Linked DNA regions of Homo sapiens: all the other regions are linked to region 2. Evidence: fine-mapped expression QTL. A gene starts in region 2. Each other region holds a variant in brackets. All regions are shown on one strand. Distances are between the middles of the regions.

The links. PIP is the estimated chance that this variant, and not a neighbour inherited with it, causes the effect.
Region 1: its variant is fine-mapped to the expression of ULK2 in whole blood (INTERVAL, PIP above 0.99).
Region 3: its variant is fine-mapped to the expression of ULK2 in skeletal muscle (GTEx, PIP 0.96). The same link has a PIP of 0.9 or more in sun-exposed skin.
Region 4: its variant is fine-mapped to the expression of ULK2 in whole blood (TOPMed, PIP above 0.99). The same link has a PIP of 0.9 or more in fibroblasts.
Region 5: its variant is fine-mapped to the expression of ULK2 in nasal epithelium (TOPMed, PIP 0.94).

The regions. Positions count from the first base shown.
Region 1 is chr17:19,792,101-19,797,100 of GRCh38, forward strand. It overlaps ULK2 (unc-51 like autophagy activating kinase 2), which reads right to left. Exons shown (of 27, transcript NM_014683.4): 19 at 3,995-4,182; 20 at 3,522-3,625. Among named protein-coding and RNA genes, the nearest start is that of ALDH3A1, 46 kb to the left of the region's middle. The variant G/A (reference allele first, on the strand shown) is at 2,563.
Region 2 is chr17:19,865,878-19,870,877 of GRCh38, forward strand. ULK2 (unc-51 like autophagy activating kinase 2) reads right to left here and starts at 2,059. Exons shown (of 27, transcript NM_014683.4): 1 at 1,451-2,059. The coding sequence starts at 1,540. RefSeq lists an enhancer at 1,176-1,684 and silencers at 1,263-1,442, 1,523-2,112.
Region 3 is chr17:19,826,518-19,831,517 of GRCh38, forward strand. All of the region lies in intron 10 of ULK2 (unc-51 like autophagy activating kinase 2), which reads right to left. Among named protein-coding and RNA genes, the nearest start is that of TRG-CCC3-1, 32 kb to the right of the region's middle. The variant AT/A (reference allele first, on the strand shown) is at 2,602.
Region 4 is chr17:19,768,735-19,773,734 of GRCh38, forward strand. It overlaps ULK2 (unc-51 like autophagy activating kinase 2), which reads right to left. Exons shown (of 27, transcript NM_014683.4): 27 at 2,096-5,000. Among named protein-coding and RNA genes, the nearest start is that of ALDH3A1, 23 kb to the left of the region's middle. The variant T/C (reference allele first, on the strand shown) is at 3,057.
Region 5 is chr17:19,817,395-19,822,394 of GRCh38, forward strand. The region is part of intron 12 of ULK2 (unc-51 like autophagy activating kinase 2); the gene reads right to left. Among named protein-coding and RNA genes, the nearest start is that of TRG-CCC3-1, 41 kb to the right of the region's middle. The variant G/C (reference allele first, on the strand shown) is at 2,079.

The DNA of each region.
Region 1 (5,000 bases), 74 kb before region 2:
CTAAAAGTGCCTACACATCAAAAAAGAAGAAATCTTCAAATAATCTAACAATGCATCTTAAAGAACTACAAAAGCAAGAGCAAACGAAACCTAAAATTACTAGAAGAAAAGAAATAATAAAAATCAGGGAACAAATAAATGAAATTGAAACTAAGAAAACAATACAAAAGATCAAGGAAATGAAAGCTAGTTTATTGAAAAGATAAATAAAATTGACAAACCTTTGACCAGACTAAGAAAAGAGGAAACAAGACCCAAAAGCCCTCATGAATGGATTAATGCCATTATAAAAGGGCTTGAGGTCAAAGGACAAGCCCTCTTCTGCCCTTCTGCCTTCCATTATGTGATGATGCAGCAAGACTGTCACCAGATCAAGTGCCTTGAACTTGGACTTTCAGCCTCCAGAATGGTAAGAAAGTAAATTTCTGTTCATCATAAATTACGCAGTCTCAGATGTTCTGTTATAGCAGCACAAAATGGACTAAGACAGATTTCAATATTCACTAAGGTGATCTAATAATGCAATCTCCACCAAAAACCCGGCCAGTCTCTCAGAGCTTGCAGTGAGCCAAGATGATGCCACTGCACTCTAGCCTGGGCGACAGAGCGAGACTCCGTCTCAAAAAAACACAAAAAAACAAACAAAAAAAAACCCAGCCAGTCTCTCTACAGAAACTGACAAGATGATGCAAAAATTCATATGGAAACTCAAGGCACCCCTAATAACCAAAACAGTCTTGAAAAAGAACAAAAAAGAAAAACTCGTATTTCCTGATTTCAAAACTTAAGACAAAGCTACAGTAATCAAGGCAGTATGGTACCAGCATAAATTGACATATAGATCAGTGAAATAGTTAAGAGTCCAGAAATAAACATATTTATAGTTGTATTAGTTCATTTTCATACTGCTATAAATAACTGCCCGAGACTGGGAAATTTATAAAGGAAAGAGGTTTAATTGACTCACAGTTAAGAATGGCTGGGAAGGCCTCAGGAAACTTACGATTACAGTGGAAGGCAAAGGGGAAGCAAGGCACTTTCTTGACAAGGCAGCAGGAAGGAGAAATGCCAAGCAAAGCGGGGAAGAGCCCCTTATAAAACCATCATATCTCGTGAGAACTCACTATCATGAGAACATCATGGGGGAAACTGCCCCCATGATTCAATTACCTCCACCTGGCTCTCCCCTGACACATGGAAATTATGGGAATTACAATTCAAGATGAGATTTGGGTGGGGACACAAAACCTAACCCTATCAATGGTCAACCGAGTTTTGACAAGGCTAGCAAAACAACACAACAGGGAAAGAATAGTCTTCAATGGTGCTGCGACCACTGAATAGCCCATCCAAAAGAATAAAGCTGGATCCCTTCACCACATCATCCATATGAATTAAGTCAAACTGGACCACAGACATAAGCATAAGAGCTACATCTTACACTTTTAAAATTAGAATTATAAAACTCTTGGAAGAAAATACAGAGTTAGGCAAGGTCCAGATGCAATTTAAGAAGGAGTGTATAGGGAAACCCAAAGACAACCGGAGAGACAAAAACAAGGATACCAGAGAAAATTTTAGCCTCTGATACCTACAGCTACAGCAAACACTAAATAAAGCTTAACTCCTGGCCAGATAAACAAAAAACCTCACACTAAAGGCCTATTTAACTCAGTTTTTAAACAAAGTACATCATACCCAGCCTCAATTAAAAGGCATGCTAAAAGGCAAAAGTACAGTTTGAAAAGAGAGAGCAAATCAAACATCAGAACCAGACTCACATATGGCAGAGATACTGGAATTGTTTAATACCACACTGGGAATTTAAAGTAATGATAATTAATATACTAAGGGCTCTAATGGAAAAAGTGGACAACATGCAAGAACAGATAGGTAATACAGACAGAGAGATGGAAACTCAGAGTCAAAAGGAAATGCTAAAAATCAAAATCACAGTAACAGAAACAAAGAATGCCTTTGATGGACTCATCAGTAGACTGGACTTTGCCAAGGAAAGAATCAGTGAGATTGAAGATATGTGAATATCTTCCTGAAACTTCCTGAACTAAAAAGCAAAGAGAAATAAGAATGAAAGAAGAAGAAGAAGAAAAAAAGAACAGACTAAGAACAATGGAGCCAGTGCCCAGCTAGCTCAGTCAGTAGAGCATGAGACTTTTAAGAACAATGAGCCAACTATAAGAGTAGAACATATACTTAACGGGAATACCAGAAGAATGAGAGAGAGAAGCAGAAGAAACATTCAAAGCAGTAATGGCTGAAAAACTTCCAAAATTAATGACAGAACAAAACCACGGACCTAGGAAACAGAAAACACCAAGCAGAATGAATATGAAAAAATCTGCACCTAAGCATATCATATTCAAACTTCGGAGAATCAAAGACAGAGAAAATTTTGAAAGAAGCCAAGGACAAAAACACACCTCACCTACAGAGAACAAGGGTAAGAATTACATCAGACTTCTCTTTAGAAACTATGCAGGGAAGAAGATAGTACAGTGAAATATTAAATCCTACAGTATTCTCTTTGGATTAGAAAGAAAC[G/A]ATGCTGGCTCAGATATTTCCTCCTTTGGATGCTCATGGGGAAAATTAAAAAGTCATAGAGAAAAAAAAAAAAAACAAGGAGATTACAATAGTGATTCTCAAATCTGGGTGTCCACAATAATCACCTGGGAGTGTATTACACATGTTGATTCCTAAAAACCCCCAGAACACTTTGGGAGGCTGAGATGGGTGGATCACGAGGTCAGGAGATCGAGACCATCCTGGCTAACATGGTGAAACCCTGTCTCTACTAAAAATACAAAAAAATTAGCCAGGCGTAGTGGCGGGCGCCTATAGTCCCAACTACTTGGGAGGCTGAGGCAGGAGAATGGTGTGAACCCGGGAGGCGGAGCTTGCAGTGAGCCAAGATTGCGCCACTGCCCTCCAACCTGGGCGACTGAGCGAGACTTCATCTCCCAAAAAAAAAACCCAGAAAATTTAAGCAAGCAAGTCTGGAATACGGAATTACAGTCTAGAATCTCCATTTTGTTTTTGTTTTTTGACACACAGGCCAAGTAATCTAGATATACATGGGTGGTCATGAACATACAGTCTCTGGAGCAACTCCGAAAGGTTCAGGGGTCTCAGTGACCTATGGGTCTTTATAAAATCCAGTTGCTGTAAAGTAAATGCTCAGGAGTACATGTAGGTTTAGGCCAACTTCGACCAGTATTACCCTACTGATAAAAAAAAAAAAAAAAAAAAAAAAAATCTTCGTCAGAACTCCTTCCATTAGTAACGCACAGGCTGCTGCTCATCAAGATACTGAATAAGGTCCTATTCTGAATGGGCTACTGAGAAGGAAGATGAGAGGATAGGGATGGCATCCAGAACTATGAAATAATACATTTGTGTTGTTTTATGCCACCAAGCATGTGATGATTTGTTACAACAGCAGTAAGAAACAAATGCATATGCTAGCAAATTACCTGCCTAAAAAGAAACTACATTTTTCTTACCTATATCCATTGGTCGTTCTGTATTTAAACTGTCTGTGCTGCCCTGATGTCGACATATAGGAGTCTTTCCTTGTTGATCTGATAACTTCCCGGTACTGACAGATCTAAAAAGAATAGTGATGTTTTTAATAAAGGAAAAGTATACTTTTTAAAACTAGAAGGGTTAATAGGAAGTTAGAGAATGAGGAAACAAGAAATAGATACCAAACAATTCAGGGTAGAGATAAACTTCAATAATACAAATAAAGGACAGAAATAGAATATTCAAAAAGTTCAGGAAGAACTATGTACTTACATAGTTACAGGAAGCATCTGTGGTTTTCAGAGATTCTAAATGTACGTGGTACATATCAATAACCATATGGCATAAATCACCCGCTACACTAATGTAGTCTTGCTGCTTTTATAACAGAAATCTATGTTTTACTATTACAGTTTTCATGTTTAATGCTAGAATGGAAACAGTCTTTTACCTGCCAAACACTGCCTTGCTCTGCTGCTCGGCCCGCTGCCTCTCACTTCCTTGCACTAAGAGGCAATGGGCACATTCCCGTGGCTCATTCCCATCTTTCGACTGTTCTTCAGCAGGCCCATGACGAGTAACCAAGGCTAACAGGTTGGAAGATGCTTGAGTTTTAGGGATTTTGAAAGGAGCTGTGGTCTAAAGAGACATATATATATATATATATGTAAACTAGTTAATACGATGCATGAACTATTCAGTACTGGCAGGTTTGTGTGACCCAGTAGTCAGGAGCATGTAGGAGATAGGTCGGGTGGTGGGAAAAATTGTAGAAAGATGCAAACCTTCTTGGAAGGCCGGGAGGTTTTACAAAAGTTAGGATTTGGCTGAAGGCAACCAGATTCTCTTATCTGGTTCCTGAAAGCTTAGGTTAGATAACAAGGGGATGTAAAAAAACTGATCTAGATAAGTTAGTTTACTTAGGCCTTGGAACCTGGCCTTTAATCATCCATGCACAATTACTTACAAGTATGTTGACTCAAGGCCTTTGTCATTAAATCTGTACTAAATAAATGCCTGCAGCACCAGCATGTCAGGGCTGTGGCTGCTACAACTCTTTCTGTGAACGGCCCGGTCCCCTAGCCCGCTCCTTCACTGGATGTCTGTGTTGGAGTGCATTTTTTCATCCATTACTTGGTCAGGGTCTGCGGGTGAGACCTGGCAGGAGTATAGACTCTGGAGTCAGTCAAACCCACTGGCAGCTCTATTTACAGCTTGTGTGACCTTGCACAATTAATTTAAACTCTCTAAGCCTCAATTTCCTTTTTTCAGGATTAAATGGGATCATACACAAAAAGCATTCTGCAAATAAAGTACTTACGCTGCATCTGGTACACAGAAAGTGCTCATTATATTATAGCTATTATTGTCCAGGAGCAGTGGCTCATACCTGTAATTCTAGCATTTTGGGAGACTGAGGCAGGCAGATCACTTGAGGCCAGGAGTTAAAGACCAGC
Region 2 (5,000 bases):
CAGAAAAAAATTTACAAGCGCGAAGGTGTTTTTGGCAAATAAATGTACGGCATTGGGGAAAAATGGAATTATTTTCAATAATTGGAAAGTGATTTCATAAATTATAGTGCAATATGCCAAGATCCTACAACACAACTTCTAAAAATAACAAATATGAAGTCCACATGGTAACTAACATTAAATGAAAAAAGAACAGTTCACAACCACTTCAAAGTTATGGACAAATGTAGAAATAAACTTGGAAGGTGATACAGTTAATTGAAAAGTTATTTGTTAGCTTGGAAGGATTACACCGTGCTTGAGTTCTAAATTATTTTCCTAATAAATGAAAAGTAGGCCGGGAGCCGTGGCTCACACCTGTAATCCCAGCACTTTGGGAGGCTGAGGCGGGCAGATCGGATCACCTGAGGTCAGGAGTTCAAGACCACACTGGCCAACGTGGTGAAACCCCATCTCTACTAAAAATACAAAAAAAAAAAAATTAGGCGGGCGTGGTGGCGGGCACCTGTAATCCCAGCTACTCAGGAGGCTGAGGCAGGAGAATCGCTTGAGCCCGGGAGGCAGCGGTTGCAGTGAGCGGAGATCTCGCCACGGCACTCCAGCCTCGGCGACAAAGCGAGACTCTGTCTCAAAAATAAATAAATAAATAAATAAGAAAAGTAGCATTACTTCATCCGATAAGCAACAAAGTCAGCCCACTTTTAACACGCCCCTTGGGCAACAATCAGAACTGCCACACCCTTTAAGATTATTTCCACTCCCGATATGCCTTTCCAAATTCTTTAGATTCTAAAACCTCGTGTAACTGTACTTGCGAAACAGCAAAGGCTTAAAACAATTTTTTTAAGGCTTAAAGGTGATTTCATGTTCAAGGTGATTGAAAATGAATTGTCCAACCACCTTTCTCACCCGGAGCTCGTCTATCTGACTCCGGGGGGGAAAACGGTACGGGGGCTCTTCGGGGTGCAGGGGACCAGTGCTGGGAAAGGTGACACCTCCCAGGCTGCGAAAGCCTGAGGCTAATGGGACATCCGCCCATTTTCCGCTGGGTCTGTAATTATCAACCTCAAAAGTGACCAGCCCTGGGCACGGGGAAAAAAACCAAAGGTCCATTCACGCCCAACCCTCGAGTCTGCACGGTGCAGTACCGTCTATTTTGGGTCCAGGGTAACCTGGGTGCAAACGCTCCTGCGGGCGGACCGCGGGGTGGGCCCCGGGCACACAGGAGGATCAGCAGCAGCCGGTCGGTAGGCGGAGCGCTGCCAGAGGCTTGGGCCTCACAACAACCCTCACAGGACCAAAACAAACGGCGAGACGGGCTGCGCGCACAATAGCATACCCGGGCGGCTAGCCGAGTCGGGGGTCTCGGCTCGCGGCTGCGCCAAGTTTCAGAACCACCTAGCCCCGTGCCTGCCGCCCGGGGCCCGGCCTCGCCCCGGCCGGCGCTCACCTGGCGGTGCCGCCCCCGGAAGACCACGGCGAAGGCCCCGTGTCCCACGAGATCCCTCTTGCTGTACTCGAAGTCACCCACCACCTCCATGGCCGCGCCCCCGGGGCACACAGCGGACGGGCGGGCGGCGCAGTGCGGCGCAGGTATCAGCACCGCGGCTCCGCGGGCCCGGAGCGCGCCAGCGTGCGGCGGGTCTGGGGCAGCCGCAGCCCCGGGCCCGGGCGGACTCTCATGCCGAGAGACCGGAGCGGAAACTGGGGAAGCTGCCGCGCGGAGCCAGGGTCAGCGAGGCCCGGCCCGGCCCCTGCCGCTCATGGCCCGGCCTGCCGCCGGCCGCTGGCTGTCTGGCGAAGCGGCCTCGGCGCTGCCGGGCCAGGGGTGCCGTCACCGTCACTGTGCGCGCCCAGAGCCGCACACGCGCTCTGAGGCAGTGAGGGGCCCGGTACTCTCCATCCCCAGCTCGTCGGGCCTCCTCGGCCCTCCCCGCTCGGGGCGCTGCTGCGACGGCGACGGCCGCCGCCCTAGAACCCGCACCGCCGCGGCCCCGCGCTTCCCCGCCTCGCGGCGGCGCCCAACGCCCTCGCGCGCGCTACCCGCTCCCGCGCGACTGGCTGCCCTCCGCGACGTCCGCGCGCCTTGAAGGCCGCAGCGCCAGCCGGCTCCCTCCGCCGGGGAAAGGAGTGCGGCCAGGGCTTGGCGCCCGCAGCTGGGCAGATCCTCGGCCGCTCCTGAGGCGGGGACGAAGGGCGCGACCCGCTGCGGCCACAGCGGGTTACGGGCTGCGGGCTCCGTTCTGGGCCTGGGGAGCAGATTCGAGCCGACCACGCCCCGGGCTCCAGGCCGCTGGGAGGCGGACTTCAGAGAAGCGGGTCTTGAACCCCAGCTGCAGGCAGGACGGGATTATCTGCGCAGGGTAGACCCCCAGATTCCTGCCAGAGCAAAGGAGCAACTGCTACTCCAGGCTTTGCCCGCGCTCTGGAAAACCAGAGTTCACGCTGCCAAACTGCCAGCCTTCGGACGCCTCTCGGGGTTTACTCGCTTAGGATCCCTAGAGGGACGGTGACAGGCGGGATTCTGCACCTTTTGGGGGTCCCTTGACTGCGAGAAGCTGGTGACAGCTCAGGGCCCTCTTCGCAGAGAATCGTTTCTGCACACCGACTCAGAATCGCACACGTTTTCAAGGTTCTCCTGGGAGCTCCTAGTGTCAGGCTAGTTTGACCTCGGGCTTACTTCACATGGCCGAAGGGAGCTTTCTTTTCTACCTGATTGTTAAAGCTGTCCAAGTGACAAGGAACAGATTGTCAGGTTTCCCGCAAAGAAGTGTCTTATGAAACCATTTAATAAACAATATGCTTGAAACTACCATGGAATACGCAGGCTCCACACTTGAGTGTGTGTTCGGTTGTATAGGGTATGTGCTTTTGGGGTCTGTCACCACCTCGACTGCCACTGCCTGTCCCTGCAAGCTGATCTCTGAACCATGACAGAGTCAGCTCCAGGATTCTGAGAGAACGCTCCTTCCTCACACGCTCAAAACGTAGGGCCTTGAGTTTCTGCTTCTGCTACTGTGCACGCTTACGTTATCCTGTCCTTACTTACATCTGGCCCAGGTGGTTGTGTTAGACACTGAAAATCTGGAGCCTTCAAAAGTTGACAGCAACTTAAGCAAGTTTGCACATACACCCAAAAATGGATGGAGATGATTCCTTACCTCACTGAAAGATTCTCTACAGTCTATTTTTTTGTTTACTTTTTTTTTTTTTTTTTTTTTTGAGACAGAATCTTACTCTGTCACCCAGGCTGGAGTGCGGTAGCACAATCTTGGTTCACTGCAACCTCTGCCTCCCAAGTGCAAGTGATTCTGCTGCCTGAGCCTCCCAAGCAGCTAGAATTACAGGCACGCACCACCACGCCCAGCTAATTTTTGTATCTTAGTAGAGATGGGGTTTCACCATGTTGGCCAGGCTGGTCTCAAACTCCCAACTTCAAGGGATCAGCCTGTCTCGGCCTCTCAAAGTGCTGGGATTACAGGCGTGAGCCACCACGCCCGGCCTGTTTTTTGTTTTGAGACAGAGTCTTGCTCTGTTGCCCAGGCTGGAGTGCAATGGCATGATCTCGGCCCACTGCAGCCTCCGCCTCCTGGGTTCAAGTGATTCTCCTGCCTCAGCCTCCCAAGTATCTGGGATTGCAGACCTGCACCACCATGCCCGGCTAATTTTTTTTTTTTTAGTAGAGGTGGGGTTTCACCATGTTGGCTAGGCTGGTCTCAAAACTCCCAACTTCAAGCGATCCGCCCACTTCGGCCTCCCAAAGTGCTGGGATTATAGGTGTGAGCCACCTCACCTAGCCACATGAAGGTTTTTTGTTTGTTTGTTTGTTTGTTTTGAGACGGAGTCTTGCTCTGTCGCCCAGACTGGAGTGCAGTGGCACGATCTCAGCTCACTGCAAGCTCTGCCTCCCGGGTTCACGCCATTCTCCTGCCTCAGCCTCCGGAGTAACTGGGACTACAGGCACCCGCCACCACGCCCGGTTAATTTTTTGTATGTTTTTAGTAGAGACGGGGTTTCACCGTGTTAGCCAGGACAGTCTCCATCTCCTGACCTCGTGATCCGCCCACCTCGGCCTACCAAAGTGCTGGGATTACAGGCGTGAGCCACTGCGCCCGGCCACATGAAGGTATTTTTCAGAAACCTCCAATAGGCCCTTCGTTTGGACATGCGTGTCCTGTATTCACAGGCCAAACATGGGCCCCATGGACATATCCATTTGAAAAGCAAAATGTGCAGGATTTCTGACCTCAAGAGTCAGAAAAGAAGTGGGGGCAGGAGGCAGGGGGTGCTTTGCTAAAAAATGTTTAGTTAGGACTATGTTGGTAGCAAATAGCAAACGTCAAATGTGATAAAGTGAAAAATAAAGAATGTAGATAAAGATACAGGTGTGCTTCTCAGAGTTCAAAGTTGGGCTTCAAAAGCAAACTACCCGCAGAACCAGGATCTCAAAGAGAACTGCCTTCCGTCTGTGCCCCTGCTTTGTTCTCTTGCCTGAGATCTCCTACATGGTGGCAATGGCAGCCCCAGTCTCCAAACCAAATTTTTTTTTTTTTTGAGACGAAGTCTTGCTCTGTCGCCCAGGGTGGAGTACAGTGTTACGATCTCGGCTCACCGCAACCTCCGCCTTCCAGGTTCAAGCGATTCTCCTGCCTCAGCCTCCCAAGTAGCTGGGATTACAGTTGCGTGCCACTGCACCTAGCTAAAATTTTTTTTGCTTTTTTAGTAGAGGCGGGGTTTCACCATGTTGGCCAGGCTGATCTTGAACCCCTGACCTTAGGTAACCCGCCTGCCTCGGCCTCCCAAAGTGCTAAGATTACAGGCGTGAGCCACTGGGCCCAGCCACCAAATTCTTAAGGAGGGGATTCTGATCAACCTAACTTCAGCTGGGTGCTGGGCCCTGAACAATCATCGGAAGCCAGGAATGGGACTGAGGAAGGCAGGATCATGTAACTATGGCTGCCCCCAACACAAGCCTGTGGGTGTTCTGAGTCCCCAGAAGC
Region 3 (5,000 bases), 39 kb before region 2:
AGAACTGTGATCACCAGGCCCTTGTTAAGCACCCATGTGAACTACAGCTGTTAATTGTCCTAAGAGGAAATTGATACAGCTGATTTATACAACAAACTATCCTTCGCCCCTACAAGTATTCCTGATGCTGGTTTCACATTAAAAAGAGAAAAAACTGGCCGGGTGTGGTGGCTCACGCCCGTAAGCCCAGCACTTTGGGAGGCCGAGGCAGGCAGATCACCTAAGGTCAGGAGATTGAGACCATCCTGGCTAACACGGTGAAACCCTGTCTCTACTAAAGATACAAAAAATTAGCTGGGCATGGCGGCCGGCGCCTGTAGTCCCAGCTACTCGGGAGGCTGAGGCAGGAGAATGGCGTGAACCCGGGAGGCGGAGCTTGCAGTGAGCCGAGATCGCGCCACTGCACTCCAGCCTGGGTGACAGAGCGAGACTCCGTCTCAAAAAAAAAAAAAAAGAAACTACAAAAACAATACATTCAATAATTTTAAAACCATTCTCCATAATAGTTGTTTCACTATTGACCATAATTCTCATGGTTCAGAGCAACTCTCAGCTTAACTTCTCCCTAATAGGTATAAATATTTCCAACTACATGAACTTAATTTTAGTCCAACTTTACAAAACATTAAGAAAATAGGTATTCAGACCATTTCATCTTTTCCCCGACATGGAAACAATTACAGCTATCCTCTACTGAGTATTCAACATTCACTAAGACAATGAACTGGGTGCTTCACAAACCTTATCTGAGGAAGTATGTCCTCCTATGATGGGTAATAAAATTAAAAGCACACAAAGGCCATGTTTCTTGTCCAATGTCAAAGAGTTAGTAAGGTGAGGGACTAGAATTCAAATTCTAGTCCAACTTATTTAAATACCAATGTGGGTTTCCCTATTATACTATACATTAGCAAACCAAAATCCTGGAGTATATTTCCACAAATCTCTGTTAGTATTACAACTATTACTACAGGAAAAGTCAAACACTTTTTTCCCTAAAAACTACAAGATCAGGGTTAATTTGCTAAGTATTTTCATTAAACATGTCTTAATGATTTCTCTGGTCTGACATTTTCAAGTAGCTGTTTTTACCTAAGATAAGAATTAGGTTGGACCGGGCGTGGTGGCTCACGCCTATAATCCCAGCACTTTGGGAGGCAGAGGTAGGTAGATCACCTGAGGTCAGGAGTTTGAGACCAGCCTGACCAACATGGAGAAACCCCGTCTCTACTAAAAATACAAAATTAACAGGCATGGTGGCACATGCCTGTAATCCCAGCTACTCAGGAGGCTGAGGCAGGGGAATCGCTTGAACCCGGAAGGTGGAGGTTGCGGTGAGCCGAGAACCTGCCATTGCGCTCCAGCCTAGGCACCAAGGGCGAAACTCTGTCTCAAAAAAAAAAAAAAAGCAACTTCCAAAAACTTTAAGATAAACTGATGAGACCCACACAGAGTTACAGAATCAAACTTTCAAAAGACAGAGAGAATCTTGGAAGCAAGAGAGAAGCAACTTGTAATATACAGGGATCCTTAATAAGAATATCAGCCAATTTCCCATCAAAAATCTTGAGGCCAGAAGGCAGTGGGATATTATCTAAAGTGCTGAAAGAAAAAAAAGTTAACTGAGAATTCTACATTCCACAAAACTGTCCTTCAAAACTCAGGAAGAAATTAAGATATCCCCAGAAAAACAAAAGCTGAGGGAATTCATTACCACAAGACCTCCCCTATAAGAAATGCTAAAGAGAGTACTTCAGGTTGAAATGAAAAGAGCTAGACAGTAAAAAGCCACATGAAGACATGAAGATCTCCGGAAAAGATAAATGCACTGGCAATTTAAAATCCAATAGTACTGTAATTTTGGTTTGTAACTTCACTTTTTCACTTTCTACAGAGTTTAAAAGACAAATGCATTAAAATTATCATAAAGATATAATTTGTGATATCAACATAAAGGGGGTATAAAGCAATACAGAAGTAGAGTTTTTGTGTGCAACTAAAGTTAATATGAATTCAGTAACTTTAGATGTTATATGTAATCCGCAGGTAACCACAAGGAAAAATATACACAGAAGGAAATGAGAAAGGAATCAAAACACATTACTATAAAAAACAACACTAAAGAGAGCAGTAATGGGAGAAATGTGGGACAAAAAAGCTGTAAGACATAAAAATAGTAAAATGGTGAAAATCTTTCCTCATCAGTAATTACTTTAAATGTAAATAGATCTCCTTAGGCAGAGACTGGCAAAGTAGATTAAAAGGAAATAATCCAACTATAATCTGTAAACAGAACAGAGACTCCCTTTAGGCCATGTGAGGTGGCTCACGCCTCTAATCCCAGGCAGATCTCTTAAGCTCAGGAATTCAAGACCAGCCTGGGCAACATGGTGAAACCAAAAATACAAAAAAATTAGCTAGGCATGGTGCTGCACATCTGTGGTCCCAGCTGAAGTGAGAGGATCGCCTGAACTCGGGACACAGAGGTTGCAGTGAGCTGAGATTGTGCCACTGCACTCCAGCCTGGGTGAAAGTGTAAGACTCCATCTCAAAAAGAAAAGAAAAAAGAAAAAGAGACTCGCTTTAAATCTAAAGACACAA[AT/A]ATTTGAAAGCAAAATAATGGAAAAAGCTATTCCCAGGCAAATACTAAGCAAAAGAGAAGGGCAAAGTTGACTATCAGACAAAATAGAATTTGAATTGAAAACTGTTATAAAAGACAAAAAGTACGTTAAATAAGGCCAAGTACACTGGCTTAAGCCTGTAATCCTAGCACTTGGGAGGCCCAAGGTGGGTGGATCGTTTGAGTTCAAGAGTTCTAGATCAGCCTGGAAAAAATGGTGAAACCCTGTCTCCACAAAAAATACAAAAATTAGCCAGGTGTGGTAGCTTTGCACCTGTAGTCCCAGCTACTTGAGGGGCAGAGGTGAGAGGATCACTTGAGCCCAGGAGGCAGAGGTTTCAGTGAGCCAAGACTGCACCACCGCACTCCAGACTAGGTGACAGGATGAGACCCTGTCAAGGAAAAAAAAAAGGGGGGGGGCTGGGCACGGTAGCTCACGCCTGTAATCCCAGCACTTTAGGAGGCTGAGGAGGGTGGATCACAAGGTCAGGAGTTTGAGACCAGCCTGACCAACATGGTGAAATCCTGTCTCTACTAAAAATATAAAAATTAGCTGGGCATGGTGGCAGGCACCTGTAGTCCCAGCTACTTGGGAGGCTGAGGCAGGAGAATCGCTTGAACCTAGGAGGCGGAGGTTGTTGCAGTAAACCGAGATCGCGCCACTGCACTCCAGCCTGGGTGACAGAGCGAGACTCCATTTCAAAAAAAAAAAAAAAAAAGGTATTAAATAATGATAGAAGGGTCAATTAACCAAGAAAATTTAAGATTTATAAACAATCAGAGCCCCAAAATACATGAAGCAAACATTGACAACTGAAGTGAGAAAGAGATTTGTACAATAATAGTTGGAGACTTCAATATCCCACCTTCAGTAATGGATAGGATAACCAGATACAGCATCAATAAGGAAAGGGAGGCACTGAACAGTGCTATAAACTAACTGGACCTAACAGACACACGCAGAGTACTCTAGTCTCTGAGAGCAGAGCATATATTTTTCTCAAGTACACATGGGACATTCTCCAAAACAGACCACACCTTAGGCCACAAAACAAGTCTTAATAATTTTTTTTTTTAATCAGAGACAATGTTGCGCTCTGTTTTTTCAGGCTGGAATGCAGTGGTGCAATTAGCTCATTGCAGCATCAAACTCCTGGGCTGAAGTAATCCCTCTTACCTCAGACTCCCAAGAAGCTGGAACTAAAGGTGCATACCACTACACCCAGCTAATTTTTAATATTTTTTGTAGAGACAGGTTCTCACTATGTTGCCCTGGCTAATCTCAAACTCCTGGCCTCATGCAGTCTTCCTTCCTCAGCCTCTCAAAGCACTAAGGTTACAGATATGAGCCACCATGCCTGGCCCATAAATTTTAAAAGATTGTAATCACGGTGACTGATTATCTTTTCCAATCACAATGGAATAAAAGTGGAAATCAAGGGCCGGGCGCAGTGGTTCATGCCTGTCCTTTGAGATTGTTTAAAAAAAAAAAAAAAAAAAACTAGAAATCAGTAACAGAGGAAATAACGGGAAAATCCACAATATGTGGAAATTAAACAAAACACTCTTGTGTTACTCTGTTTTCGCACACTATAAAGAACTACTTGAGGCTGGGCGCAGTGGCTCATGCCTATAATCCCAGCACTTTGGGAGCCCCAGGCAGCCTGATCGCTTGAGAACAGAAGTTCAAGACCAGCTGGCCAACATGGTGAAACCCCATCTCTACTAAAAATACAAAAATTAGCCATGCGTGGTGGCACGCAGCTGTAATTCCCGCTACTCAGGAGCCTGAGACAGGAGAATCGCTTGAACCCCGGAAGTGGAGGTTACAGTGAGCCACGATTGCTCCACTGCACTCCAGCCTGGGTGACAGAGCAAGACTCCGTCGCTAAAAAAAAAAAAAAAACTACCTGAGACTGGCCATTTTATGAAGAAAAGAGGTTTAATTTAGTTCTCCATGGCTGGGGAGGTTTCAAAAAACTTACAATCATGGCAGAAGGTGAAGGGGAAGCAAGCATGTCTTACCATTGCAGAGCAGGAAGGGGATGTACCACACTTTCAAACCATCAGATCTTGTGAGAACTCACTATCACGAGAACAGCATAGAGGAAATCCGCCCCCATGATTCACTCACCTCCCACCAAGCCCCTCCCCATTCACTCACCTCCCACCAAGCCCTTCCCCGTCTCATCTCATTCAAGATGAGATCTGGGTGGGACACAGAGCCAAAGGATACCAACTCTTAAGCAACCATGAGTCAAAGAAGTCATAAAGGCAAATTAGAAAATATCTTGAGACAAATGAAAATGAAAACACAACATACTAAAACTTATGGGATGTAGCAAAAGCAGTAGTAAGAGGGAAAAATATACCTGTAAAC
Region 4 (5,000 bases), 97 kb before region 2:
CAGGGCCTCTCAAACCCACTACCCTTTCAGGCCCCTCTGCTGCTCACCATTGGTGAAGTGGGGCTGTCAGGAGCAAAGAGAATTTCTGGATTTTCTCCTAACATTTTCCCCTACTTTAACCTCCCTTCATCTGTTGAATTTACTGCAAATCTTTCCTAGTCTTTTAGTTTTCCTATACTTAAAAAAACCTTGTTTTTAAAAATTACATAATTAGGCCAGGCACAGTGGCTCATGCCTATAATCCCAGCACTTTGGGAGGCTGTGGGCGGATCACCTGAGGTCAGGAGTTCGAGACCAGCCTGGCCAACATGGTGAAACCGTCTCTACTAAAAATACAAAAATTAGCTGGGCATGGTGGCACGTGCTTGTAATTCCAGCTATTCAGGAGGCTGAGGCAGGAGAATCACTTGAACCCAGGAGGCAGAGGTTGCAGTGAGACGAGATCACGCCATTGCACTCTAGCCAAGGCGACAGAGTGAGACTCCATCTCAAAAAAATACACACACACACACACACACACACAAAGTTAGCCAGCCGTGGTGGCACACACCTGTAATCCCAGTTAGTTGGGAGGCTTAGGTGGGAGAATAGCTGGAACCCATGAAGCAGAGGTTGCGTGAGCTGCGATCGTGCCACTGCACTCCAGCCTGCAGCCTGGGTAACAGAGTGACACTCTGTCTCAAAAAAAAAAAAAAAATTTTTTTTTAATTATATAAGCTCATGGTGAAAAATATCAGCATTATGGAATATAAAATTAAATGTCTCCTGTAATCCTAGCACTTTGGGAGGCTGAGGCGGTGGTTCATTGAAGGCCAGAAGTTTGAGACCAGCCTGGCCAACATGCTGAAACCCCATCCCTACTAAAAACACACAAAAAATTAGCCAGGCCTAGTGGTGGGCACCTGTAATCCCAGCTACTTGGGAGGCTGAGGCAGGAGAATCACTTGAACCTGGGAGGCGGACGTCGCAGTGAACTGAGATCGCACCACTGCACTCCAGCCTGGGTGACTGAACAAGACTCCGCCTCAAACAAACAAACAAGTCTCACCCACCCTCTAAAATAATTCCCATTTTCCAAGTCCATCAGACACTACAGATAGGGAAGGAAAACTTATTCCATTGGACACCCACAGATATATCTTTATCATCTTATAAACACTTAAAATGTATTCAAACCTTTTGTGCATACTTTCATCATATTGTAGGAAAGTTCTCCCAAAGAGACAGGTGTATGGGGGTGCTGTTTTCTTTCTCAGAATGTAAAAGGGATTTATGAAAACAAAACTGTTCGTGCTCAAAATATTCTGGGTTTCTACTAGAAACTAAATCCATTTTCCAACCACAAGGCATTCCATATCAAATCAGCAGCCTGCACTCTTCCTGCTCTTTATGAGAATTCCTACCTAAATCAGTCATCTTTGGTTTAGCTCCAAAGTTTATCAACTCATCTTCATCTTCACTGAAATTTTCCAGAGGAAGTGGAGCAATAACCTCTAGCCACCCAGGGCCCCTCAGAAGCCCTGGCTGTAGGTTTCCCATCATTGCTTCCTGAAGGGAATCCATGTGCTAGACAAGAAGTCACTTTATTGCCCGTGAGACTTGGGAGAGGCCTTCCAGAGATCTGGCCAGGCTCAGCCACTATCTTCTTCCCCAGCCTCTCCCTGTAGTAGCGGGTGGGGGTGCCAGTGTAAACAAGGGCCCCCATGTGGGCTGAGATGGGAACAATAGGACAGAAGGTAGGAGAAGGCAGCAGCTGGGTGGACTTGGTGGCTGGAGATGGGGTTCTACATGCCATCCTCGTCCTGCGTAAGCCAAAGGGGACTGGCACTGAAAGCTAGGCTGGGCAGGCCGAGGTGAGAATGGGAGTGCACGCAGCCTCAGCAGGGCAGCCTCTAAAGGGCTTTCCTGGAGAAAGGGGCTATGTCTACTGCCATCAGTGAAGGAACTGGCCCCAGCAGGCGGCAGGGCCTATGGCAGGGGAGGGTCCTCTGGGCACATCTAGACTTGAGAGTCCTCCCACTTCCCACTGAAACAATTCCCTGCTGCTCAATCTCACTGCCATATGCAAAAACAAGCAAACAGGAACACTTAAAAGTGGGTCGATCAAATGCTTGAGTTTATTAACATGTCTCCCAAGTCTTTTTTACTGGGAGTTTCAGGGTGGTCTCTGAAATCCATTGCTGTTGAGCTCCAACTCCAGGCCCCATGGGGTTGCACCAAGCTGCTCAACCTCACCTGTTTCTTGAAATTTTGCTGCCTTCCACTAGGCAGATGGGTCCAGCAGGAGACATTGGAGCACCAAATGGAAAAGCTCTTCCTTCCTTCCCCTCTTCCTGTACATCAGAAAGAATGCATTAGAAACTCAAGGAGTGAGCATTTGGGCTTCCTAAGGGTGAGACAGTGTGGGGCTCCTGTGGGGAGATGGGTACTCCTGTACCCAGTGTGGCCTCCTGCTCCCACCGCTTTCCAGCTGTGGGGCTTTTCCTTGTGGAAATTACTGTCCAAGTTTGATTTTTCCATCTGTAAAAGGAGGCAAGTAAGGGTTGGTATGAGGATCAAATGAATTAACAATTATCAGACTGACACAAACATTCCACTTAAACAGCCAAATTGACTTAAAAGGGCAACATAGATGTCTGAAGCCAGACTGCCTGGTGGGCAAGCTGGAGAAAGCAACTTCTATGCAAGAACTGTGTCCTTTCAGAAGCTCCAGCCAGAGCGTACGTGGTTGGAGAGAGCCCTGAAGACAGGCCTTGCCCCACACAAACACAGAACAAATTGTTCTCCACCCCCTCCCAAAACAAAACAAAAGCAGTGAAGAGCCACAGAGTGATGACCACTACAACGGATACAGGATTGCTGAGCCCTTCCACGTGCCAGGGGCTGGGCAAAGAATTTCATATTCATTAACTTATTTCTCACCTCAACTCTGTGAGACATGCACTCTTCCCCCACTGACAGATTCGGAGGAGGGGAGGAACTTGCCAAAGAACACACAACTGCACATGGTGGAGCTGGAATTTGAGACCAAGTGGACCACTAAGCTACCTGCCAAA[T/C]TGAGTTGCAGAAACCCCAAAGGAGGCATAGAACACGGTTTCCAATAAACAAGAGCTCATGTGGGCACTTCCTAATGACAGAAGCTAACTGTCCAAGAGCACGACTGTCTTGGGACAGGAGATCATGCTGCAGAGCCCAGGGAGGTCCGCCCTGCGCAGAGAGGGAGTGCAGACCTAAAGAGAGCCACACTCTGTGAAAAGTGGAAAAACCTACAGATTGATCCCACCTGTTCAGAGCAACAGGCACGGCTTCACTCGGGACCACATGTGCCCAGGGGCTCCACAGGGCTGGGTCCTGGCTCTGGCCATCTCTGCACAGCCTCTGCTGGGCCACTCTGTGAGAGGTCACGCTGGCAGCAAGATCTCAGCCTCTGCTCCTTTCCCTAGTACAGTTTGATCTCTGAATTCACTTTGATCTTTTACCAGTTCGGCTTCACCTCTTGCACCAAAGCTGTGATTTCTCAGGGCAAGTTGTCAGCTTTCCCGTATGCAGTGTTTTTCTAGGTGGATTGTTTCTGATGTGGTTTCCTCTGATGCAGGTGAGGGAAGTATCATCTTGACTCCTCCACCAATAAAATTATTCTCACAGGGCTTTACTAAACATGAGACTTGGGAGGGACCCAAGAGCTTGCTTGGCTGCAGATTCAAGGGTCCAGGACTCAGAAAAAAGTGGTCTGAGGCCGTCTAGAAATAGGCACAGATACTTCCAGGATGCATGTAACAATACCAAGTTCTCTGAGCAGTAGCTACTGCCTGCCAAATAATCCTCCTTGAGAAATACTGATCAATCTTGCTTTATTCCAGAAAGAATTTAAGACTGCTTATAGAAAATACGAGGGAGCATAGTTTAAAAAGTGTGAAGTCCTCCTCCAAAACATGTGCTAACCACTAATATCAACATTAAGGATAGCCCGGGCGCGGTGGCTCACGCCTGTAATCCCAGCACTTTGGGAGGCCGAGGCGGGCGGATCACGAGGTCAGGAGATCGAGACCATCCTAACACGGTGAAACCCTGCCTCTACTAAAAAATACAAAAAATCAGCCGGGCGTGGTGGCAGGCGCCTGTAGTCCCAGCTACTCGGGAGGCTGAGGCGGGAGAATGGCATGAACCCCGGAGGCGGAGCTTGCAGTGAGCCAAGATTGTGCCACTGCACTCCAGCCTGGGTGACAGAGCAAGACTGTCTCAAAAAAAAAAACCAAAAAACAAAAACATTAAGGATTTTGGCCGGGCACGGTGGCTCATGCCTGTAATCCCAGCACTTGGGGAGGCTGAGGCTGGTGTTCAAGACCAGCCTGACCAACATGGTGAAACCCCATCTCCACTAAAAATACGAAAAATAGCTGAGCGTGGTGGCGCATGTCTGTAATCCTAGCTACCTGGGAGGCTGAGGAAGAAGAATCACTTGAACCTGGGAGGCAGAGGTTGCAGTGAGCCAAGATTGCGCCAATGCACTCCAGCCTGGGCAACAGGGTGACTCTGTCTCAAAACAAGCCAACAAAAAAATAATAAGGATTCTTCAGATATCTGAGTCCAGGTCCTCATGTCCACTGTGTCTAACTCAACTTATTACTGTGCAGACTGAGGCAATCCAGCCCTAAAAATCCTCTCCTCTCAAGCTCCTGGACGGGACTCTAGTGAGGGCAGAACTGCTGGGCTGGTAATTCCTCTTGGTGGAGACAAAGGAACATGGGACTACGGGCAATAAGTTACTTATCAGTCTTCACTAGAGGTTGTTTCTCTCAACTAAAGTTATCAAAATTGGGTGTTGTAATTTTTAACTTGATATTCCCAGACAAGTGCCAGGAGAGAAGCTGTTGCAAATGCTGAGTGGAGAGGAGAAAGCCTCAGCAGAGAGGCGAGCTGGAGGGAGGGATGGATGCTATCCTTCTCTGGACTGAAGCAGTTACAGGATGGCTGCACAGAGTACTCCTGGCAGGCAGAAG
Region 5 (5,000 bases), 48 kb before region 2:
ATGTAAAAAAATAGACAAATCAGGAAGGGTGCCTGCACTTAAGACCAGAAATGTATTTATAGATTTGGAAAACCTTACAGGTATCCTTGTGTTCCTCTTGTTTTTGTTTTATCAGGGGTAGTAGTTGATTTGTTAGTAGGAGATAGGATAGGAAGGGAAGAAAAGCATGTAAATATATTTAAACAAATACTTAAGAGCTAACTAGCTACGTATCTTTTGTCGTTTATCTAGTGCAAGGACCCTAGTTGACAACTCATTGAATATCTTGATTATACAATGGTTTTCTACAACAATGAACTTCATAGCTTATTGTGTCAAGCCCCTATTAACCTGTTTCATCTTTGCCTTTATTTAAGGAACGGAAAAATACTATATTATGCTCTTTAAACCCAAGCCTTAAATACCTGGTTCACTGCTGCTGCTCCTTTGAATGTCACTGTGCCATGGTATCGGTCACTGATACCACTTATTTTCATGTGTGTGACATGCACTTGACACAATCTCTCCTTATCACTTTTTGAAGAGACTTTGTATCTCAAGGTAATGAAGGGAAGGGAAGATGGAAGAACTAGCACTACTGAGCCTCAACCATGCGCTAGGCACTGTTAAAAGAGCTTTCCGGCAGGGTGTGAATCACGGCTCACACCTGTAATTCCAGCACTTTGGGCCTGTAATTCCAGCACTTTGGGAGGCCGAGGCGGGCAGATCACGAGGTCAGGAGATCGAGACCATCCTGGCTAACATGGTGAAACCCCGTCTCTACTAAAAAATACAAAAAATTAGCCGGGCATGACGGCGGGCGCCTGTAGTCCCAGCTACTCGGGGGGTTGAGGCAGGAGAATGGTGTAAACCCGGTAGGCGGAGCTTGCAGTGAGCCAAGACTGCGCCACTGCACTCCAGCCTGGGCGACAGAGTGAGACTCCGTCTCAAAAAAAAAAAAAAAAAGAGCTTTCCATGTTATCTAACTTTAGCCCATTCACATATAAATAAAGTTCAGACAGGTAATTTGCCCTAGATCACACAATTAAAAAGTAGTCAAGCTGAGATGTGATTCTAACTCCACAATATCTTTCCAGTGGTTTAGGCAGGAACTTTCCCAGTTTCTTCTCCTGCTATTTACAAAATTACCTGCATCTACAATCACCCTGGTCATTCTTTCTCGTAACAGTGGAAGAGATGCTTCTCTTCCATGGGCGCTCCTCTCTCCACCTGTGCTCTGCATTCCATGCTCCTCTATGTCCCCAGTGGCCTAGAACAACTCCCCTCGGCTCCTGACATTTTCATCCTCTCCTTTTGTTATGGCATTTTTTCCCTCTGTAGATAACCATGTTTAACTTTCTCACATCTCAAATCCCTAAAACCCTCTCAAATTATCATCTCTTCTTCATTTCTTTTCTTTTTTCTTTTTTTTTTTTTTTTTTTTTGAGATGGAGTCTCACTGTGTCACCCAGGCTGGAGTACAGTGGCATGATCTTGGCTCACTGCAACCTCTGCCACCCAGGTTCAAGCGATTCTCCTGCCTCAGCCTCTCGAGTAGCTGGGATTGCAGGCATCTGCCACCATGCCTGGCTAATTTTTGTAGTTTTAGTAGAGACGGGGTTTCACCATCTTGGCCAGGCTGGCCTTGAACTCCTGACCTCATGATCCACCCGCCTCAGCCTCCCAAAGTGCTGGGATTACAGGCATGAGCCTATAAACAACATATCTTGAAATTATCATCTTCACTGACTCAAATGTGTCACATCCTATATATCCCTTAATTCAACATAACCCACTCTGTCTTCAACCCTTGAATAAAAATGCCTTTACTAAGATTATCAATAATTTCTATTGTCAAGTCCAGCAAGTATTTCCCGTACTCCTTAAGGTACTTGAACTTTTTGCTCCATCTGTACTGTGGACCATTCTTCTCAACACTCTGCCCCTTCATTCAGTGACCCTGCAATCTCTTGTTTTTCCTACTTCTTGGGGACTCCTTCTGAGTCTCTTTTGTGAGTACATACTTCTCATTTGCCCCTCAAAAAGGAGGAGAAGGAGAAGAGTAGAGAGTTCCCCATGAGCCACCCTGGGCTCTTCAC[G/C]CTTCACTTGTTGTACTTACCCGAGTGACCATGCTCACTGTCCCTCCTACCTTTAACTACCACTCACAGAATGATGGTTCCTACTTTTTGATCTTCAGCCAAAATTCTCTCTGATGAGCTCTAGATCCCTTTGTTCACTTGCCTATACAACACATTCATGCCTGTACGTTAACTCATCACCTTTATATTCCAAAGCACTGCTCCCCAAGTTCCCTCAGAGTGACCTTGCCAGCCGGCCATTGTCACCAGCAAGGTCTCACTCTTCCTCAGGTTCCAAGTTCAAGCAATCTTCAAGATCTGTGCGCTCTTTGCCTTTCTCTTACCTGGCTCTTCTCCTTCCTTACTGCCGCCTTAGTTCAGGCTTCGTTCTCAAAACAGTAATGACGACAACAACAATGATGATAAAATAAAAGGTGCAAGGGTCTCAAGGTGTCCTCTCTCCTCTAGTGGAGACCTCTGTATTTCCTCTCTCACTCCAACCTAGTCCTCCACCCTGCTTTTGGGAGAATCTAGCTAAAAAACACAGTGGATCATATCACTCACTCTAAAATCATTCCAATGGCTCACTGCAACTTTATTTATTTTTTTTTTTTTTGAGATGGAGTCTCGCTCTATCACCAGGCTGGAGTGCAGTGGCGTGATCTCGGCTCACTGCAACCTCCGCCTCCCGGGTTCAAGCGATTCTCCTGCTGCAGCCTCCCGAGTAGCTGGAACTACAGGCGCGCCCCACCACGCCCAGCTAATTTTTGTATTTTTAGTAGAAATAGGGTTTCACCATGTTGGCCAGGATGGTCTCAGTCTCTTGACCTTGTGATCCACCCGCCTAGGCCTCCCAAAGTGCTGGGATTACAGGCGTGAGCCACCGTGTCCGGCCTAGCTCACTACAACTTTTAAGAATGCAGCTGAAATTCCTTTGCTTGACCTCCAAATACTGTCAGGCCTCTGTCTACCTCTCTAGCTTTCTTTTCCCTTCACCCATCACCAATGCTCTCTGCATCCACCAAACTGAACTACTGAGTGCAGCCTTGTTCTTTCTGCAATGATGGAAAAGGCCTATATTTGAGCTATCCACTATGGGAGCTACCAGCTAGCTAAGGCTACTAAGCACTTGAAATGTGGCTGGTGTGAATAAGAAAATGAATTTTAAAATTCACTTAATTTTAACAAATTTAAATGTAAATGGCCATGGAGAGCTAGAGTTCCTTCAGTGGCTCACGCTTCTATGACTTCATGTACGGAAATTCTTCTGCTTACAATATCATTCTTTCACTAATTCTTGCAATCTTTCTTCAAAACTCAGCTCAAACAATCCCCTCTTTTTAGCAGCCTTCCTAAATCCTTAATCTAATTTTGATGTTCCCCAATCACACTCCCATAGGCAATGAAGATACATATACATATGCTTCTGGCAATGACTGAGTTACCTACCTCTTCTCCATACAATTAAATTAAAACCTCCTTAATGTCAGGGACCTGGTCATCTCATTCATTAGTATAAACCAGAACATCACACAAAGTAGGTATTCGATAAATGTTATAAAACGAATAAATAGGCCAGGCGAGGAGGCTCACACCTATAATCCTAGCACTTTGGGAGGCTAAGGCAGGTGGATAACCTGAGATCAGGAGTTCGAGACCAGCCTGGCCAACATGGCGAAACCCCATCTCTACTAAAAATACAAAAATTACCCAGAAGTGGTGGCACATGCCTGTAATCCCAGCTACTCGGGAGGCTGAGGCAGGAGAATCACTTGAACGCGGGAGGCAGAGGTTGCAGTGAGCCGAGATCGCGCCACTGCACTCCAGCCTGGGTGACAGAGTGAGACTCTGTCTCAAAAAAATCACTAAATAAATAAATATTCAAGATTTACCATCTAAATAGCATTTAATCTCTAGTCAGTATCATAATTAAAAGAGTGATTTGGAGTTTTTTTATTGTTTGTAATTTTTTGTTTTGGGGGGGGCCTAGAATTTTTCTGGAATAAAATAGCAGCTAGATATTTACATGAGAATGTAAAAACGACAACGTTATATCACATGCCTGTGTATCTCAAGCCTCTGTATGAGTCTACACCAGTCCTAGAAAGAAGGGGAAGCATGTATGAAATCATCTTATTTTTGGCAGATGATGTTAAATGTAAGGTCTATCAAACCATACCATTTTCTAATCCCACTAACTGGAAACTATATACAAATGTTCGTACTTTCCTTTTTTCCCCTGCTTTCCACTTTATTTCCATTTTTTTTAAAGGCTTCCTAAAATGATGTTTATTGGTTGGTTGGTTTTTGAGACAGGGTCTCTCTGTATCCAGGCTGAAGTGCAGTGGAGCAATCATAGCTCACTGTAACCTCGAAGTCAGGGGCTCAAGCACCCAGCTAATTTTTAATTTTTTTGTAGAGACGGGATTTCACCATGTTGCCCAAGTTGGTCTCAAACTCCTGGGCTCAAGCAATCCTCCCACCTTGGCCTTCCAAAGTGCTGGGATTACAGGCGTGAGCAAGCACACCCAGCTGACCTTATCTTTTTTTTTTTTTTCTTTGAGAGAAAGTCACAAAGTCTTGCTCTGCAGTGGCACAATCTCAGCTCACTGCAATCTCCACCTGCTGGGTTCAAGTGATTCTCCCACCTCAGCCTCCCAAGTAGCTGGGATTACAGGCGCACGCCACCACACCTGGCTAATTTTTGTATTTTTAGTAGAGACAGGTTTTCACCATGTTGGCCAGGCAGGTCTCAAACTCCTAATCTCAAGCGATCCACCCACCTTGGTCTCCCAAGGTGCTGGATTACAGGCGTGAGCCACTGAGCCTGGCCCAACCTTACTTTTTAAAGAACTCTAATGAATAAGACATAAAAAGGATATGTTTATGCCAGTGACTTATTTTATTTTTTATTTTATTTTTTTTTTTGAGATAGAGTCTCGC